Regions from separate parts of the Homo sapiens genome. Here region 1 is reported to be linked to region 2. The links are microRNA targets in miRTarBase. Many come from high-throughput screens and were not tested one by one. Region 2 holds a microRNA gene; the other region holds the end of a gene's coding sequence.
Evidence for each region. The annotated mature microRNA hsa-miR-6752-5p reads GGGGGGUGUGGAGCCAGGGGGC and lies in region 2 at 2,205-2,226, opposite strand. An mRNA with a match to its seed (bases 2 to 7 or 8) in the 3' UTR can be bound and repressed. Matches are read on the target gene's strand: a 7mer-m8 pairs with bases 2 to 8, a 7mer-A1 pairs with bases 2 to 7 and ends in A, and an 8mer does both.

Region 1: the mRNA of IL2RB is a reported target of hsa-miR-6752-5p. Seed matches in the 3' UTR shown: 7mer-m8 at 998-1,004.

What each region holds. Positions count from the first base shown.
Region 1 is chr22:37,124,386-37,128,484 of GRCh38, reverse strand. IL2RB (interleukin 2 receptor subunit beta) reads left to right here. Exons shown (of 10, transcript NM_000878.5): 10 at 1-2,642. The coding sequence ends at 389. Among named protein-coding and RNA genes, the nearest start is that of TMPRSS6, 17 kb to the right of the region's middle. RefSeq lists an enhancer at 1,288-1,337.
Region 2 is chr11:67,488,253-67,492,475 of GRCh38, reverse strand. It overlaps MIR6752 (microRNA 6752), which reads right to left and starts at 2,231; the gene lies at 2,161-2,231. AIP (AHR interacting HSP90 co-chaperone) reads right to left here. Exons shown (of 6, transcript NM_003977.4): 3 at 3,021-3,209; 4 at 2,262-2,438; 5 at 2,019-2,160; 6 at 1,373-1,688. The coding sequence ends at 1,483. It overlaps PITPNM1 (phosphatidylinositol transfer protein membrane associated 1), which reads left to right. Exons shown (of 24, transcript NM_004910.3): 24 at 180-708. The coding sequence ends at 443.

The sequences.
Region 1 (4,099 bases), not on the chromosome of region 2:
CCAGGGATGACCTGCTGCTCTTCTCCCCCAGTCTCCTCGGTGGCCCCAGCCCCCCAAGCACTGCCCCTGGGGGCAGTGGGGCCGGTGAAGAGAGGATGCCCCCTTCTTTGCAAGAAAGAGTCCCCAGAGACTGGGACCCCCAGCCCCTGGGGCCTCCCACCCCAGGAGTCCCAGACCTGGTGGATTTTCAGCCACCCCCTGAGCTGGTGCTGCGAGAGGCTGGGGAGGAGGTCCCTGACGCTGGCCCCAGGGAGGGAGTCAGTTTCCCCTGGTCCAGGCCTCCTGGGCAGGGGGAGTTCAGGGCCCTTAATGCTCGCCTGCCCCTGAACACTGATGCCTACTTGTCCCTCCAAGAACTCCAGGGTCAGGACCCAACTCACTTGGTGTAGACAGATGGCCAGGGTGGGAGGCAGGCAGCTGCCTGCTCTGCGCCGAGCCTCAGAAGGACCCTGTTGAGGGTCCTCAGTCCACTGCTGAGGACACTCAGTGTCCAGTTGCAGCTGGACTTCTCCACCCGGATGGCCCCCACCCAGTCCTGCACACTTGGTCCATCCATTTCCAAACCTCCACTGCTGCTCCCGGGTCCTGCTGCCCGAGCCAGGAACTGTGTGTGTTGCAGGGGGGCAGTAACTCCCCAACTCCCTCGTTAATCACAGGATCCCACGAATTTAGGCTCAGAAGCATCGCTCCTCTCCAGCCCTGCAGCTATTCACCAATATCAGTCCTCGCGGCTCTCCAGGGCTCCCTGCCCTGACCTCTTCCCTGGGTTTTCTGCCCCAGCCTCCTCCTTCCCTCCCCTCCCCGTCCACAGGGCAGCCTGAGCGTGCTTTCCAAAACCCAAATATGGCCACGCTCCCCCTCGGTTCAAAACCTTGCACAGGTCCCACTGCCCTCAGCCCCACTTCTCAGCCTGGTACTTGTACCTCCGGTGTCGTGTGGGGACATCCCCTTCTGCAATCCTCCCTACCGTCCTCCTGAGCCACTCAGAGCTCCCTCACACCCCCTCTGTTGCACATGCTATTCCCTGGGGCTGCTGTGCGCTCCCCCTCATCTAGGTGACAAACTTCCCTGACTCTTCAAGTGCCGGTTTTGCTTCTCCTGGAGGGAAGCACTGCCTCCCTTAATCTGCCAGAAACTTCTAGCGTCAGTGCTGGAGGGAGAAGCTGTCAGGGACCCAGGGCGCCTGGAGAAAGAGGCCCTGTTACTATTCCTTTGGGATCTCTGAGGCCTCAGAGTGCTTGGCTGCTGTATCTTTAATGCTGGGGCCCAAGTAAGGGCACAGATCCCCCCACAAAGTGGATGCCTGCTGCATCTTCCCACAGTGGCTTCACAGACCCACAAGAGAAGCTGATGGGGAGTAAACCCTGGAGTCCGAGGCCCAGGCAGCAGCCCCGCCTAGTGGTGGGCCCTGATGCTGCCAGGCCTGGGACCTCCCACTGCCCCCTCCACTGGAGGGGTCTCCTCTGCAGCTCAGGGACTGGCACACTGGCCTCCAGAAGGGCAGCTCCACAGGGCAGGGCCTCATTATTTTTCACTGCCCCAGACACAGTGCCCAACACCCCGTCGTATACCCTGGATGAACGAATTAATTACCTGGCACCACCTCGTCTGGGCTCCCTGCGCCTGACATTCACACAGAGAGGCAGAGTCCCGTGCCCATTAGGTCTGGCATGCCCCCTCCTGCAAGGGGCTCAACCCCCTACCCCGACCCCTCCACGTATCTTTCCTAGGCAGATCACGTTGCAATGGCTCAAACAACATTCCACCCCAGCAGGACAGTGACCCCAGTCCCAGCTAACTCTGACCTGGGAGCCCTCAGGCACCTGCACTTACAGGCCTTGCTCACAGCTGATTGGGCACCTGACCACACGCCCCCACAGGCTCTGACCAGCAGCCTATGAGGGGGTTTGGCACCAAGCTCTGTCCAATCAGGTAGGCTGGGCCTGAACTAGCCAATCAGATCAACTCTGTCTTGGGCGTTTGAACTCAGGGAGGGAGGCCCTTGGGAGCAGGTGCTTGTGGACAAGGCTCCACAAGCGTTGAGCCTTGGAAAGGTAGACAAGCGTTGAGCCACTAAGCAGAGGACCTTGGGTTCCCAATACAAAAATACCTACTGCTGAGAGGGCTGCTGACCATTTGGTCAGGATTCCTGTTGCCTTTATATCCAAAATAAACTCCCCTTTCTTGAGGTTGTCTGAGTCTTGGGTCTATGCCTTGAAAAAAGCTGAATTATTGGACAGTCTCACCTCCTGCCATAGGGTCCTGAATGTTTCAGACCACAAGGGGCTCCACACCTTTGCTGTGTGTTCTGGGGCAACCTACTAATCCTCTCTGCAAGTCGGTCTCCTTATCCCCCCAAATGGAAATTGTATTTGCCTTCTCCACTTTGGGAGGCTCCCACTTCTTGGGAGGGTTACATTTTTTAAGTCTTAATCATTTGTGACATATGTATCTATACATCCGTATCTTTTAATGATCCGTGTGTACCATCTTTGTGATTATTTCCTTAATATTTTTTCTTTAAGTCAGTTCATTTTCGTTGAAATACATTTATTTAAAGAAAAATCTTTGTTACTCTGTAAATGAAAAAACCCATTTTCGCTATAAATAAAAGGTAACTGTACAAAATAAGTACAATGCAACAAAATAGTGTTGATATTCATTGCCTGCGGTAAACCTGTTGTCTCTTAAAGGGGAAATGAGAAGCTGCTGGGGAGCTGTCGAAGACATCCCAGGGCCAAATGCAAACTTCCTCCTTGAGAGAAAGGAAAAGGATTGTAAAGGGAATATCTTTTTCACTAATAGGAGTCAGGACTGTCTGTCTTATTCTGTGTCCAGGTATCAGCTCATGGCCATATCCCACAAGTCTATGCCTGGGGAAATATTGCACTTGATGACGAATCTCTCTCTCTCTCCTCTCTCTCTCTCTCTCTCTCTCTCTCTCTCTCTCTCTCTCTCTCTCTCTCTCCCCCCCCCTCTATCCCCCTCCCTCCAGATAGGTAGATAGATGATAGATAGATAGTGTCCTGATAAAAGTTGGACCAGACCAGGGATGGCAATTCCTGGCATTCATAAAGCCACACTCATGGCAGACATTACTAATCAATTGCACCCATGCACGGCAGACATTTCTAATTGAACACAGCTCTCCTCCTGCAGAGCCTGGGTGCAGCTTCAGATTCTGCAATGCTGCGCTATAGGCAGCCCCCAGTTGGTCACAGCTGATAGCTGATGACATCTCTGGACCGCATAATTCCTCAGGTTCCTAACACAAAAGGAGCTCTTAGGTTTCCCAACTCCGATTTCCCAGGCAGGGAAAACTGAAGCTGAGAGGATGGAGACTGGAAAGCTGAGAGGGACCTGTGAGAGGCAAGCCCAGGGAGCCCAGCTGTCCCCACCATGTCTGGTGAGAGACTTGAGCTGGCAGGGAGCAGAGTCAGGGCCACCTTATACCGGGTGCAGATGAAGGGATGGGCCAGCGGTCACTGTGTGTCATGCCCAGTGTGGATCCGAGTGTGGATCTTGGGAGAGGAGACAAAGAGGAAGCAGCTGGCGGCAGGGGTGGTGGTCAGATTGCAGGAGGGGCCTGGGTCAGATTCAGGAGACAGGAGCGGCACCAGCTGGGGACCGGGCAGCCGCTGGGGCCCTGGAGAACCGTCAGGTACAGAGCGGGAAGCAGGAGGCAGCCAGGGCAGATCTTGGGGGTAAGAGAAAAAGGAGGAGAGGTGGGGGGAGGGGGGGGCCTTCCAGCCTCTCATGTTTCCTCTTTGTTGAACTAGGTTTGTTATTTTGCTTCCTCCGTTCCCCCACCTCCCATCTCTCATTCGAAGCAACTTCAGGTGCCTGCATTTCCCAAGTAAATTATGGTGGAAACTGTAGGCCCAGGTCCAGGATGAAGCACCCACCACTGTCCTCCTCATTACTGACAGCTGAAAAAACAGACCAAGGAGGACAGTAAGAAGGGGCAAGAGAACCAATACTTCCACTCTACACATTGTGCCAGCATGGCCTGGGCGTCATCTCTCATCATCTGGAAACAACCTTGAGAAGCAGGTGCTTTATTCCCCATTTTGCTGATTAGGAAACAGGCCCAGGGAGG
Region 2 (4,223 bases):
CAGCCAAGGTGCCCTGGCTCCCAGCCTGGGGTCCTATCTATTGAGAAGGCTTCAGCTCAGGCTGTGCCAAGCCTGCCACCAGTCCCCCAGCCTGCCTCAGGTGCCTCTGGAGGACCGTGGAGGGCAGCGTGTGGGCCCTTGGCCAGCACCCCCTCATCGCTGCCTACCTCTGCCCACAGTTCCTGTCAGACGGCTATGTGGCCCACCTGGGCCAGCTGGAAGCGGGCTCGCACTCGCATGCCTCCTCGGGACCCCCGAGAGCTGCCTTGGGCAAGAGCAGCTATGGTGTGGCTGCCCCCGTGGACTTCCTGCGCAAACAGAGCCAGCTGCTTCGCTCGAGGGGCCCCAGCCAGGCGGAGCGTGAGGGCCCGGGAACACCACCCACCACCCTGGCACGGGGCAAAGCACGGAGCATCAGCCTGAAGCTGGACAGCGAGGAGTGAGGCCCACACCAGCCTGGACCTGGGTTATTTATTGACACACCCAAGGGGCCCGAGGGGCTGCGTGTGGGAGGCTGGGGACCCAGACTTTTGGCCCCAGCGCTGGCCCCCCCAGCCCCACACCCTATATCTCCGTGTGCTCCTCGGTGTTACTTCCCTTTCATATGAGGGGACCCAGCGCCGGGGGGAGGGAGGAGGGCGTGGGCATGGGCGCAGAGGCTTTTCCAGTGTGTATAAATCCATGAAAATAAACGCCACCTGCACCCCACCCACTCACCCCATGCCTGGCATCACAGGGCAGCCAGCCCAGTTTCCAGTTCAACAGGGGACACTGATGTGCACAGAGAGGCCAACACACACCCAGGGCCATCCAGCTCACAGGCAGGGTCAGGATGGGGGCCTGGGCCTCAAAAGGTCGCACGAAACCCACGCCCAGGGCCATCCATGTCACAGGCAGGTCAGGATGGGGGCCTGGGCCTCAAAAGGTCTCACGAAGCGCTCGGCCCTCTCCTCTTTCTGGACAGTCAGCCCACCCCAGCCCAACCCGGCTCACCTCAGCCCCAGCGTAGCTTCTCATGGAAACCCTGCCCCCAGACACCGAGGCCAGGAGACCATGGGATCCGAGGCTGGAGTGGGAGGGCAGCACCAGGAGACTACCTCCCTCAGGTGCCCAGCTACCTAGCTTGTACCCACTTCATCTCCCCCTTAAGACTGTGGGCTCCTGGGGCGCCCCAGCCCTGGCCAGCGAGAGACACTTCCTTGGTGAAAGAGCTCATCGTAATTTCTCTAACAGGGACACCAGAGCCTCAGAGCTGGTGGGTGGAGGGGCTAGGATTTGAACCCTGATTCTTTGCCTCCCAACAGCCACCCAAGTACCAGGAATGCCAGGTGATGACCCGGCTCTCCCAGTGGAGCAGCTCAGCAGACTCAGAGAGAGATAAATAAAGGCCTTTATATACACAGAAGCATGACGCAGCACGGGCAGGGGGGCTGGCAGCTGCAGCAGTGGGCTTGGCAGGTAAGGCAGGGCCAAGTGCTCCTGTCAATGGGAGAAGATCCCCCGGAACCGGGCTTTGTCCTCTTCGTCCTTCTGCCGGATCCGTGCCTCCAGGGCCCGCAGCTCTCGGCTCACCACAGGCGCCAGGGCTGGGTCCAGCTCCAGCACTTTGGCAAAGTCAGCCTGGGCCTCCTGGGCATTCCACACGGCCGCGTGGGCCTTGCCCCGCTTGAAGTAGGCCTTGACGTTGTCTGCAGGGGAGGCCAGTGGGCAGTGGGCATGCAAGGGCATGAGGGGGGATCCTGGCCAGCTGCCTGCCCTCATGTCTCCTGGCACCATGGGCCCACAGGGGAGAGAGAGCCCTCCCTGACCTGAGGATGCCACCCCACCCCCAATACACCATTCATGCTTCATTGGCACAATGGGGCCCACAGCCCTGCCGAGTAGAGGCATTTAGTCAGGCCCCCGTGGGAGCTCAGAATGGGGGTTGTGAAAGGCTAGGTCTTGACCCCAGCAGTGACAGGAGAAAGGCCACTCTCTGACCACTCGCAGCCCCCGGCAGCCCAGGGCCCGGTGCTCACCGTCGTACTTGTTGAGGATGGAAGAGCAGTGGTCCAGCACCTCGTAGTACTCCTCGACCACCAGCTTGCACTGGCAGTAGTTGAGCAGCAGCGGCGTGATCTGCTGGTCCAGCTGGATCCATTCAGGGGACCCAGGCTGTTCCTGGGAGTATGGGGGCAGGGAGCGGGGAGAAGCTGTAGACCTGGGCCCCCTGGCTCCACACCCCCCTCCATCCATCCTCCCCCTCAGCCTCCAGGCAGTACCTTCATCTGCAGGTTCTTGAGGCAGGCAATGGCATCGTAGTACTTGGCAGCAGCCTCCTTCACATGCCCCTCGCGGTACAACCGGTTGCCCTCCTGGTGGATAAGTGGCACTGCCTTTGCCTTCTCTTCGTCTGTCATGGCCCATGGGTCCTGCTGGTACGTGCCAGGGCTCTCCACCTGCAGGGCATGGGGCATATCACAGCGGGGCTCGGGGACACCACAGCTGCGTCCGTCAGCAGCAGACCTGACCCACATCTGGGCTGGCTGGGCCCCCAGACATCACACACCAGCAGCAGAGCTACTTGTCACTCAAAAAGCATCAAACATCGATGTCACATCTCCTGTGTGCCCAGCACTGTGCCAAGTGCTAAGAATAGAACAGTGAACAAGACGGTGAAAAGCCCTGCCCTCGCAGAGATCATGCTGCATGGCAGGTTCCCTAAATGGACAAGGAAATCCATGAATTCCAAGGGACTTCAAGGTGCGGCAGAGGCTATAAAGGAAATGAGCTGCTGCGAGACAGAGAATGAGGAGACCGGGTGGGCAGGGCCGGTTTCCTGGAGGAGGTGACATTTGAGATGTGAAGGAGGAGGAAAGGAGACCCAGGGTACTGCCAAGGGTCCTGCACAGGTTTTCTTGTCTCTGTCCGCTCCCCCAGCAGTCCACCTGCGGATCCCACCACCCCTGGGTGGACAGGCCAGCGCCGCCCTGAGGCTGGGCAGTGGGGGCCTGGTGAGACCAGGCGCGGTGGCCCCTCACCTTCAGCATCTCCATGTGGAAGATGAGGGGCTGGGGGTTCTGCTGCAGGGCGTCCAGGTCAGCATGGCCCAGGGAGCTGTGTTCACGCATCTGTGCAACACCGCAGCAGTGCCGCTGGCCCTCCAGGGGGTCCTTGCCCACCGCGATGTTGCGGAGACTCTTGGCCACCAGCGGGTACAGGACCACATGCTGCGGGAAGGCAAGGGCGCCGGGGGCTCTGTCACCGTGGGCTGGCTGGTCACCGGGTCCACAAGGCCCAGCCCCCTTCCCCACCACCATCTGAGAACAAACACCAAGGCCCAGAGAGTGACAACTGGGACCCTACTCCGTTTAAGCACAGGAGGCTTTTAATTCAGGACTCCTCCAGTCGCTCAGCCCTCTCTCCTGGTGAAGCCCCAGCTTCTGCCACATTCTCTGGCCACCAAACAGAGCACCTAACCCCCTCCTCACCCCCACCACAGACACATGCCTACCATCAACCCCTGTCTCCCTGGTCCTTACAGGCCCAGTAGAATTCTTACCTCCTCTCCCTCCAGAGGATAAGGCCCTTTGCTGGACTATGCAAAGAACTGGGGCCCCCCACATTCTGTTCCCAGCAGCTCCTCCTTCTGCCCCACCCACACCCCACTGAGGGCCTACCTCAGAGCTGGGCCCAGGCCAGCCACTTCAAAACCCTCAGGGAGGCCGGATGTGGTGGCTCACGCCTGTAATCCTAGCACTTCGGGAGGCCAAGGCGGGCGGATCACCTGAGGTCAGGAGTTCAAGACCAGCCTGACCAACATGGTGAAACCGCGTCTCTGCTAAAATACAAAAATGAGCCGGGCACGATGGCAGGTGCCTGTAATCCCAGCTACTCAGGCAGCTAAGGCAGAGAATCAGCTGAACCCAGGAGATGGTGGTTGCAGTGAGCCAAGATCACGCCACTGCACTCCAGCCTGGGCAACAGAGTGAGACTTAGTCAAAAAAAAAAAAACCCCACAGGGAGACAGGCATAGGGGACCTAGCCTCTAATCTCTTGCTTGGCAAAGCTGCTAGGCTGGTGGGAACCAGATAACCAGATTCCTCCTACCCGGGTCCTCCCCACTCCTCCCACTGCCCTGTTGTCTGGACAGGGGCTGACTGCCGGGCTGCCATCAGCGGGCATTTCCTGAGTCTTGGCTCTGGACTGGCTCGCGCTGGGCATCCCAAAGCTAGAAGTAAACA